3 linked regions of the Homo sapiens genome follow. The protein of the gene in region 1 interacts with the protein of each later gene in a pairwise test. Each region holds a gene or a part of one and is shown on either strand. Other genes may lie near its edges.

Evidence for each region.
Region 2: the proteins of PKNOX1 (region 1) and FAM110B interact in binary tests that used the Homo sapiens proteins (3 or more experiments, as listed by UniProt).
Region 3: the proteins of PKNOX1 (region 1) and PBX3 interact in a two-hybrid assay, tested with the Homo sapiens proteins (2 studies listed by BioGRID and IntAct).

The regions. Positions count from the first base shown.
Region 1 is NC_000021.9:42,972,811-42,976,562, forward strand, and holds the start of PKNOX1 (homeobox protein PKNOX1), read left to right. Parts: upstream 1-1,751; 5' UTR 1,752-1,854; intron 1,855-2,330; exon of another isoform or gene 2,331-2,465; intron 2,466-3,752. UniProt on the Homo sapiens protein: Activates transcription in the presence of PBX1A and HOXA1.
Region 2 is NC_000008.11:57,997,447-58,001,198, forward strand, and holds part of FAM110B (protein FAM110B), read left to right. Parts: intron 1-3,752. UniProt on the Homo sapiens protein: May be involved in tumor progression.
Region 3 is NC_000009.12:125,750,331-125,754,082, forward strand, and holds part of PBX3 (pre-B-cell leukemia transcription factor 3), read left to right. Parts: intron 1-3,752. UniProt on the Homo sapiens protein: Transcriptional activator that binds the sequence 5'-ATCAATCAA-3'.

The sequences.
Region 1 (3,752 bases):
AGTGCTGGGATTACTGGCGTGAGCCACTGCGCCCGACCCCTTTTAGGCAATGTAGGGTATCTTCCAAACGTTGCCATGGCATTTGAAAACTGTCATGGCGCTGGCGAGAGTGTGTTTTACCAAGCTCATATATTATAATTAGTGTATAATCAGCAGTGAGGAAGGCCACAGGTCACTTTCCCCGCCATCTTGGTTTTGGTGGGATTTGGCCGGCTTCTTTACTGCATCCTGTTTTATCAGCAGGATCCTTGTGACCTGTGTCTTGTTCCGACCTCCTATCTCATCCGATTACTAAGAACGCCTTAACTCCTGGGGGGTGCGGCCCAGCAGGTCTCAGCTTCAGTTTACCCAGCCCATGTGGAGTCTCTCTGTTCCAACACCTATTGACACTTGCATCTGGATCTTGCACTAGGCTCTGCAGATTATGCTCAGTCTTGAATACTGAGCTTTTTTTGTCCCCTTGAACTTCCCTCCTTGGGCAAGTATCTCAGGGCCTCCCTCTTGCCCACCCTGCTGCTTCCCATCTTTCTGAAAGAGGCGGCTCTGCAGCTGCACAGCACTTGGCCAAGACCTCCTGGCGGTGTGGAGCTCTGAAGACACAGGAGGGATGTCCTCCGAGCTGTTCATGCCTAGACCTACCCCCAGGCTCCCTCTAGCAATCAGCTCCAGTCCTGGGCCTGTCTGCCTTCCGGGAGGAGTGGGGGCCCACAGAGCTGCCCTTCCCGCGCTGTGTATGGACTCAAGGCACTGATGGCCTTCGGTGGGCCACTGCATAAATGGATGTTTCTGCAGTATTGAAGGCCAGTCAGGCAAACCGTGTGCTTTCCTACGCAGTGGGGAATGTGTCGCCCTTTCCTTACATCTTGGAGACCAAAGCCACCATCTGCACTTGTGGGTACATTGTGGCAGTGGTCGGTTAGGGTGGTCTTTCAAAGCAGTTTGAAATGCAGACACTTGTGGGCGTCCCCTAAGGCAGGTGCCCTTTACCTGGAGGCCGCATTGGTCACCTAGACCCGCAAGGCTCACCTGGGCCGGAAGGTGTGGTCAAGCGAGGCCAAGTAGCCCAGAGGCCACCCCTAAGCACCTGTGGACATCATGAGTCCTTGCTGGGGTCCTCACAGAGGGAAGACAGCCCCCAGGGTAAAGCCTCAGGTGCTAAGCACTCGCGCTGCCGCAGGGGGGGAGGCACGTGAGCATCCACTGTGCCGCCCAGGACGGGCCCACCCGGGCTCCAGAGCCTGGGGAGGAAGGCTGCGAGGCTCCCACGGGCTTACATTCAAACCGGGCACACACAGAACGGAGGCCTTCGGCTACGGGACGCCCGGCGGTGGGGTTACGGATGGTACAGCCCTCCCTCCCCGCCTGCTCGAGGCAAATGGTTTCGCCCGGCTACACACACCTCTCCTGGGCGGCAACCGAGGGCGCGGAGGGGGCAAGACGTGCGCTGAGGCCACGCCCCTACTGCATAGTCATAAGGCGGGAGGCTCTGCCTTCGGGGCGGGGCAGACAGCTCCTCGCGCTCGGGCGCGGCCGGTTGGGGGCACGGCCTAGCTCCGGGTGCGGGCGGGGCTGGAGGCGGGGCCGGCCACCGCCCGGTTCCCGCCCTCGCTCTCCTCCCCCAGCGATCAGGCCCCGCCCCGCGCCCGCCGCCGCGCAGGGAGGGGCGGGGCCCGTCTCCGGCAGGCCCCGCCCCCTCTCTGAATATTGATGCGGCGCGCGTCGGCGTCGCCCTCCTCCCATTGAGCGAGGCTGTGTCGCGTGGCCCAGCGTCGGCGTGACGGTTGGACGCGGGCGCGGCACTGCGGGTCCCGATTGCTGCAGCCGCTTGTCAGTGTGATGAAGATTGGCACCCAGGTAAGCTGTCACTCAACCGCTCCGCCGCCGCCGCCGCCGCTCTCGCCGCCGCCGTCCCTATCAATCACACCGGCCCGCGGCCGCCGCCCGCCGCCGCCGCTGCCGCCCGGGTCTGGAGGGCCGGCGCTGCCCTCGAGGGCCCGCATTTGACCCGCCGCCCGGGGCAGGGGGCGGGGAGGGGGCGCGGGTGGGGGAGGGGAGCGGGCACCCGCGGGGGAGGGGGCGCCTTCAGCCCAACCGGCGCGGGGGCGCGCCCAGTTGGTTTCTTAGTGTGGGTTGAGGGACGCGGAAATTTCTGGAAGGCGCCGCCGCCGCCGCGCTGGGCCTGATCGAAGCGCGCGCTCCTAACCGTCCCTTTCGGAGTGCGGCGCGCGCCCCGGCGCGGGGCGGGGGCGCGCGGAGCCCGGCGCGGGCGGGGCGGCGGGCGTGAGGGTCGGGGGCGCGCGGCGGGGCGGGGCCGGGGCGGGCGGCGCGCGTGGGGCCGGTCGGGTCCGCGGCCTCGCGGAGTCCTCAGGGCCGGCGGGGCTGCTCGGAGGGTGCGGGGCGCGCGGCGGCGCAGGCGGGAAGATGGCGGCCGCGACCCCGGCCCCGGCCTCGGCCGTGGCGAGCGGGTGGGTCGGGGTCCTGGGGGCGGTGGGCGTGATGGGGCTCGTGGCCCTCAGCCGGGCGCCGGCGCGGGAGCAGCCCAGGGCCGCTCGCTGACGGCAGTGTTTGGGGCCGGGTGCTGGGGAAGCGGTTCCGGCGTCCCGGGAATTGGTGGGAAGAGCCGCTTCTGTCACACGGGTCGTGGTAATGGATGACAGGAAGTGCCGGGCAGGGTCTGGGCGCCCTGTGGGTTTGCACCTTCCTTGTGAGGGAAATCGTGTCACTTAACGAAAAATGAAGAAACGCGGAGTCTGCTTTATGTCATCCTCGTGGCTCTCGAAATGCCTTATTTGGACAGTGGCTCTGCGACGGGACCAGTTAGGGCCTCCGTTCCGATGGCGGATTCCTGACGGGAGGCCCGAGGGTCCGGGAATGGCGGCGTCCTGAGGTCGGGCCCAGGGCAGGCCAGGCTGAGCGCCACGGCGGGGCCGCAGCCCTGGGGGGTGTTCCACCTGTGTGTGGGGTTCTCTTCCAACTCTACGAGAGTTTGCTTTTTAAAACAGTAGATGATTTTTCCTTAGGAAGTGGTTCCTCTTCAGGATGAAAGAAACCCCCAGCTTTAGTTAGGTCTACTTTCATGATTTTTCCTGGCATACTGAAAAATAGGCTTTCTCTAAACATAAGGAAGAATCGAGGTGAAATGTGAACCTCTGCCAGTATAGTTATTGGTGATGCTCTTGCATTTAGTCATAATTTGGAAGATGGCAGGCTGACCCCAATGAGCCTTTCATCACTCTGCTTAATTTACTTAGAGTGATTTGTGAATCCTGTCCTTGTACACAGGCGTACCTCAGATAATTCGAGTTCTAATCCAGACCACCGCAGTAAAATAAGTATTGCAGTAAAGCAAGTGACGCAACAGTTTTAGGTTTTTCAGTGCATATGAAAGTTGTAATTACAGTATACTACTTAAAGTGTGCAATAGCAAGCATTATATCTATAAAAATGTGCTTACGTTAATTAAAAAATATTTTAGTGCTAAAAATACTAATGATCATCTGAGCCTTTAGTGAGTCCTGCTTGTTTTATACTTTGACAATCTGGCCTCAGTGTGGATGGCTGCTGACTGATCAGGGTGGTGGTGGCTGTGTCAGTTACTTAAAATAAGACAACAGTGAAATTTACTGCATTGATGGACTCCTCCTTTCATGAAAGACTTCTTTGTAGCATGTGATGCTGTTTTGATAGCATTTTAACCACAGTGAAAATTCTTTCAAAGTTGGAGGCTATTCTCAAACTCTGCCACTGCTATC
Region 2 (3,752 bases), on another chromosome or scaffold:
CCCATTGTAGAGTCAGATTGATCAGCTGAGCCTAGAGATCTCCAACTAATCTGAACTTTTTTTCATACTTAACTTTTTAGGAGAGAGAAACAAATGATCAGAAACCTACTTGCATCTTGAATTTATTTAAGAAAACAACTTCCTAGGGCCAATTCTCATTTACTTTGATTTGCATCATTCTTCTGGCTCCTGGTATGATGCAGTGAGAATTGATATTCAGGATGAAGACTGAAGTGTTGCAAAGTCATGACTCATCCAAGAAAAATACATTCATTCTATTCAGTACAGACACCAAGGCTAGAAATCTAGTACACTCAGAAAAAGGATTTTCTGGTTCATAATAACAGTTATCTCTAAGGGCTGGCTCTGGGACCAGCAAAATCCTCGATGGTTGATGGTGGGTGTGGTGTCTCCTCTAAGAGAGAGTAGGTGCTGTTATCCCCTTTCTATAATACAAGTGAAGGGAAGTGACTTATCTGAGTCACATAGCTAATATGTAGCAAGGTGTGTGTGTCTCCAGACCCCATGAATCTTTCTGTCATGCCAGGAGGAATAACTTCTGCCTTGTACATTCAGTTGCTGGAAGTGTTTGTGTTTCATACCTTCTTTTCAGGTTTGATGTCAACAAATCTCTTCTCTATAACTCATTGACATACTTTGAATTTTGTGGTTAACATTTGATTATCAAAGAGTCTAAAATGAGAAAAGGTACGCCACTTTTAGTTTTCAGGGGAAACCTTTTAAGATTTCACAATACCTTGTTAAAGATCACTTGTTTTAGGAAGGTTGAGGAGAGAGATGGCACATTTAGCTTCTTTGAACTATGTAGACTCTGATAAAAATGTCTTAGATTTAGAAGTAATAAAGAATGTTGGGTCTGTTTTTGGCTTCGTTGCTCAGGTGTTCTGAGAGCAGCACAGCTCCCCCTATGCCAAGTGACTTTCTTTCCCTTAGGTTAAAGGAGGTTTATTCATTTTGATCACTTAAGTACATCAGAGGGGATTATGATGATTTTGGAAACATTGAATCAAATCTTCATTTCATATATTCATTTATTTTATTTTAGACTTTAGGCAGAGCCTAATATAATTTTTTAATGTTGATTTTTTTGTACTGAAAACATTATAGAAATACAAAAATGTAATATTTGGGAATTGTTCAGAAGAAAACACATATTATACCCAAAGTGTTTCTCAAAGAAGCTAAATGTAGCATTAACTCTAGACTTTGAAAGGATAAGTTATGGGATGATTTGCATGAAAGATTTTGGGGAATAGTTGTAGGAAACTTAGTTTTTCATTCTTTGTGAATGTTAACATCCAAACGATTACAGATAATTAAGATATAAGGCTTCTCCACTGTTGCAGAATTCTTTTTCATCCTGTTTTAAAACAACCTGAGTTTGTTTCTGAATGATCCTTTTGTAATATAAAATTAATGAACTTAAATCATGCCTATGTCATTTTGACATCTTAGATTTCCTTATACTTATGGGAAGAAGGGATTGAGTGAGATTTTTACGTTTTTCACATTTTACAGTTCGTCTCATAAGGAAACTCCCATAAGAAACTGGCATTCAAAGACATAAGCCTTGTTTTTTGTTGTTGTTGTTGTTGTTTTAAAGGAAACTTTAGTAGGTGAAGCAAATTACTTTCTTTGCTCAGTATGTTTGGTGATAAAAATAGTGAACATGTGGATGATTAAACAGTTTTAAACCGGCATTAAATCTATGACTTTAAAATTGTAAACACTTTAGAGAGAAGTTCAAAAATGAATACCTAAGCAAAAGGAAACAGTATGTCATTTGGTAGACAGGTTTCTGGAAGAATCAGAAGAATTCTGTGGTATGTTTTATACATCAGGGCAAGATCAATGGGTTTTGAAATTGTCCAGTTCCAGATGAGGCTTTTAAAAATACAATTCACAGACATATGGGAAATTTTTGAGTGGTTGTGTTGTAATGCAAAACATTTTTTTCCTCACAGCCCCATTAGAAGTTTATTTCATCTTTTTAATTTTATTTTTTAGGAGGAATCACATATAGCCTTCAAAACGATCATTCTCGCCAGTGATTTTTTTTTTGTCCCATTAACTGGAACTTAATATAAATAAAAAATAAGTAATTATGCAAAAGAACATAGTTTACTAAGTTCCTCTACTATGATGATTATATTAAACAGATATTGATAGAGGACGTATTGTGTGCCAGGTACTTTGAATAAACATCAGTCAGGAAAGACAAGGTTCCTTCCTCTTTGAGGCTTTATTGTGTAAAGTGGGAAAATAGATAATAAATTAAATGAATAAATGAAAAGCGAATTTAAGGCAGTAATAAGTGCAGTCGAGAATGGGGGCCACTTTTCCATCTGGGCTTGGTGGTCTGGGAGGGCTTTACTGAGGACTTTAGAGCTGACTTCAGTGAAAAGAAGGCAACATGTTTGGGCATGTGTGGGACTAAATATATATACACATCCATGAATGTGGAGTGTCTACAAAAGGGTTTGAAGATAAGTCTTTGCATTTTATTCATCAAACTTCACCGAAGGACTGTAGTCAACAAGCAAAAACTGTGCAAGATTAAAAGCCTGAAGAAGAATACACAAATATTCTTATTTATAAAACGAGTATTTATTTTAAAAATTCTTATTTATAAAATGACCTCTGCAAGGTCTCTGGGCATTGAGGATGGCCCATGCAAAGGCCCTGTGACAGGCAGAACCTGCCCTTGTGAGGAACAGGAGATAGCAGCCAAGGAACCAGGTCAGCAGGGCCTTATGGACCACAGCGGAGTTGGGGTTGGGGTGGAGTGTTTCCATTTAGTTTGAGTATAGGGGAAGCTGCCAGATGGATGATGGATGATGGATGGTAGATTATTGTCTCAGTTTCTGCTAAGTTCTTTTATGTTACTTATGATATCACATCTCATTGTAATGACTTTTGTTAGTACATTGATTTTGATGCTGTTTGTATTTTTCAACAGGAAATCATACTCATTTTAGAAATAAGAATATTTGTGTATTCTTCTTCAGGCTTTTAATCTTGCACAGTTTTTGCTTGTTGACTACAATCCTTGGGTGAAGTTTAATGAATAAAATGCCAAGATTTATCTTCAATCCTTTTGTAGACACTCCACATTCATGGATGTGTATATATATTTAGTCACACACGTGCCCAGACATGTTAGTCAGTTTACTTTCTCTGGCTACCACGGGGGCCACCATTTCTACTCTTGGTCAAAAAGAGACATTTGGAAATTGGGCATTCAGCAATTTTGGGAAATACCAGTGAATCCTGATTACGCTTGTGTGTTTTTACCACATAGTTAAAACAAGGTGAGAGTTGGGAGGTTCATTGTACAGTTGACTGTGAGTTGGGGATTTAAAAAAAATTCCTTTAATCTATCCCTAGCCAGTGTCCTTTCAAATGATCATTTATTGGAATGTTGTGATTTTAAAATCAGATTTTTTCCCCCCAATACATTTTATTCTTGTTTAGTGACAATGATAGAAGAAGAGAAATCATTGTGTGGGTTGTTAATATGACTAGTCATGGGTGCTCTTCACAGCTTCTGTTGGCTTTGTTCCAACCTGCAACATGCACCCGGGTGTGTAACCATAAACCGTTTTATAATGTTTTGGTAAAGTGGCCACAGTTTTTGCGGGGATAGACTGCCTGCCTAGTAACTTAGTTCCTTAATTTAATGAAGATTTTTTTTTCTAGTTCTTCTTAGTGAATCTGTATGTTCCTCTCTT
Region 3 (3,752 bases), on another chromosome or scaffold:
GCCTTTTTAAAGTTTTGGCCTAGCTAGCTTGAGAACTAAACCCAGCAAACTGCTTTTCATGTTGAGACATTTAGCAGCAGGCAGAATTCAATTAGGAAGCATAAGTCCTTTAGTTGCTTATTTGCACAGGACTTAGTTACACCATTCTGAAAGGAAAGTATAGTCAACCACATGTCAAAGGTGAGTTACGAAAAAGAAACAAATCTTTTCAAAGTCTGGGATTACTGGCAGAGAGAGCTTTGGTAGGGCTATTGCTATTTAAAAACCAAGAGGCAGCTGACAAAAGAAATTTTTGTGTTTTAAAATTGTTTCTGGGGCTTTCAGTGATAACTTGTAAATTAGATTCTCTTTTTGTGCTTTGGCCAGTGGATCCACATTTGCACGTTATCTCTTTTGTAAAAAGCCAACAGCCGACAAAGAGTAAAGGCGGCTGTCTGGGTAGAGGCATCTTCCTGCTAGCCTCTCTAAGCTCGAGAGGGATGGGATTTAAGTACTGAGTGATTGATGGGGGTGAAGCTCTTTCTCTTCTTTCCATTCTCCCCTACTACCCATAGCTTCACCTCACTCTCCAAAACTAGTCTTAGAATGAGACAGGGACTCAGAATCCTCAATTCGAAATAAAACAGCTGTGTAGACATTAGTGTTACCAAAGCAAAGAAAGCGGGGCTGCAAATTCCAAGCCCCCCCACTCCTGCTTCCATAGTCGGTCATGCTTTAGAAACATGAACTTATAAAAGAAACATTGTAGAATATATGTATATTGCATAAATATTTTTTAAAAATCATTTTATTTAATCTAATAATACCTAAAAATTAATTCTTTGTAATTTAGAGAAAGTTTACCTAGTCATTTATGAATAGAAACCAGAAACATTATGTTGATGACTCTATTCTGCTTAATGAAGGGGGTTGAGGGTGAACTGTCATTTCAGTGGATAATGTCATTTCAGTTGTGCTTTTCTTCTAAAACAAAACAAAATCATTTTAAAAAAAATCTGTTTATTTGTAGCTCTGCCAGTGGATTTTGAGGTTTCTGATCAGGCAGTGAACACTGCCAGTTCTTATGCACATGGGGGATTTAGTTTAGAAAACATCTGTTTCCCCCTCTACCATATATGAAAAGGTATTTTTCCCTTCTGACAGATAAATGGGTAATCTACTACAATTATATTATTTTCTTGTTGAGAGGTAAGGAAAGTATACTTCTACTATAAGATGCTGCTTTTTCTTGAGAATATATTCTTTCGTAAAATTGATCATACCATTATTTTTGGGCAGAAATGTCTCTCATTGTTGAATTGTGATATTTGTGCATTTTGAGAGCACCCAAAAAGTTGTAGGCTTTAAAATAAAAATAGTTGTTTATTTTAAACCAAGTAACCAGTGAGATTATTGTTGATATGTTAAGATTTTTCTCCTGATTTTTAAAGCCATATTTTATCATCTGTCTCTTATTAAATATCCCTGATGCCACAAGGTCTGCTCACCTGCATACCTCTTTTGGTGTATGCCCCCACCTCTTTTTGGTCATCTTAATCTTAATTGTTGAAGTGCTTTCCTTTGTGAAATATTTCATCCTGAAAAATCTTGTCTTCTTTCCAAAGCCCTTAATTGTGCGAGTTTAAGTGAAGGAAATAGTTCTTTTTCAAGAAAAAAATATTTATTTTTTAAATGAAATCCCACATTTTAGTAGATAATATGAATCACATTATTGTGAAAAATGTTATGCATGAAAAAAAATAAACACAACCTTTTCCTTTTCAAATAATAGGTTAAAATACTCCATGTTGATGGCTGCCAACCAAACTCTGATTTATTGCCACCACAAACCCTAAATAGCGTTCATTTACTAGTAATGTCTAATGGCATACATGATGGTTTGCCAGATTTGTAGCCTTTGTGAGGCTTATAAGTAGGACTGACTTGGGAAGATCATAAAACTTAATGAACTTCTCTACTGCAGGAGGTGTCCGCAGGGGAAGAGAAAGGCCTGCTTGGTTGGTTGGGCTGGTTGAAGTATTTTTTATGTTTAAGGAGAAGAAAATGACTAGTAAAAATGCCTTACTTTTAAAGGAACCCTCCCTAGAAAGAGTCATAAGAATTTTAGATATTAAAACTAGATCAAGAGTATAGTTTACAAGTGAGGTTTTATGTGCATTTAGTATATGATGTGAGATTAAACCTTTTATCTTTATTGCTAGAAGTGTGACTAGCTTTCAAAGAGACAAGGCAGTACTGTCATTCGACACCTCTCTATTTAATTGTGAACCCACAGGTTTAGAGACTCTTTGGAGTCTTTTTTTGGTGTGCTTCTCTTTTTAAGGTTTCAATATAAAAATCTGTTACATTTTTCTTTGTACAGTGCTGTGTGATTCTTTTAATTCTACATATGTAAAAATCAATTTTTTCAAGTGAAAATTTAGCAAGAAAGGTGAAAATTGTTATATATTAGTCTAAATGTTATTATATATTTTGCATATGCTTTTAAGTTGCTCTTGCACTATTTCCAATATAATTATCATCTTTTGTTTCAAGTTTTAAAAACAAATGCACTGTTCCATACATGATTCCTTTTTGTGTTTTCATGAAACACATTTTGTTTTAATGAACTTATTTTCAAGATTTTAACAACTTTTTATTGTGGACACCTTTGAAACATAACATGCAGAGAGCAGAGACTCTTGAACCTCCCATGAACTCAGTGCCCATCTTCAGCAATTAGCAATACTTGGCCAGTCGTGTTTTCTCTGTAATTCCCACCATTCCAAAATTATTTTGAAGCAAATTTTAATGGTTCTTTAATGTTTTAAGTTTCATATCAATTTTAAGCATTAGGTCTGCTTATATTGGAAATATTAAGTGATTAAACAGGAAAAATACAAAGTCAGAGTATCTTGGAAATGTTATAAATTATATTGCTTTATCAATATATTTTTCTTAACTTAATATTTTACCTTTTTTTTTTTCTATTTTTATAGATTTGGTATCTTACTGGAGCTTTTGTAGGAGGTTTTCAGAGAAGTTGTAAAAGAAAGGGATTTTTCTACTTCTTTATTCTTCCATTTCCATCCTAACAAAATAGCACATATAATACATTTGTAGAAAACCTGGAGAAAAATCTCATTGCCAAGCTGGTTTAGAACCTCATGATCTAAAGTATCATGTGGATATTATCTTTAAAATATAGAGACATTTTCCAATCCTGTTCTTTATTTTTTTCTTCCCAATAAAAATGTATTGAACTCTCTTGTCAATACTAACTTGATCTGTGCAAGTAATTCTTTTGTTCCTTAGTTTTAATGACCCTCATTTTATTACAGATTTGAATAGTTTTGGTATTTTATTTGGGACTTTACTATGTTATTTTATTAATTTACATAATTTTATTCTGAATTAGAAGTCTTTTAATACACTAGCAAAGGAGGCCCCGACTTGCCCCAAAGAGCACACTGGTTGATCGGCTTTCATAAAATGTACTTGTCTACATTTTTCATACTATGATGCTTTTCCTTTTAATTAATTTTGCCTGTATATTTCCATCTCAATTTATAAATTTTGTAAAAGGTTACTTCTGAGGCAAATTTAAATTAACGTATTAGTTGGATTATTTATATTTTGATACTTTATAGTGGCATGGTATAGGATGAAGTTACATTATATGAAGTGGGACTATAAGAATTGAAACTGCATTTCGTGAACCACACCCTAAGTCAGTCATCACTTTATTTTGTACTCTACCCTGAGGTATCTAT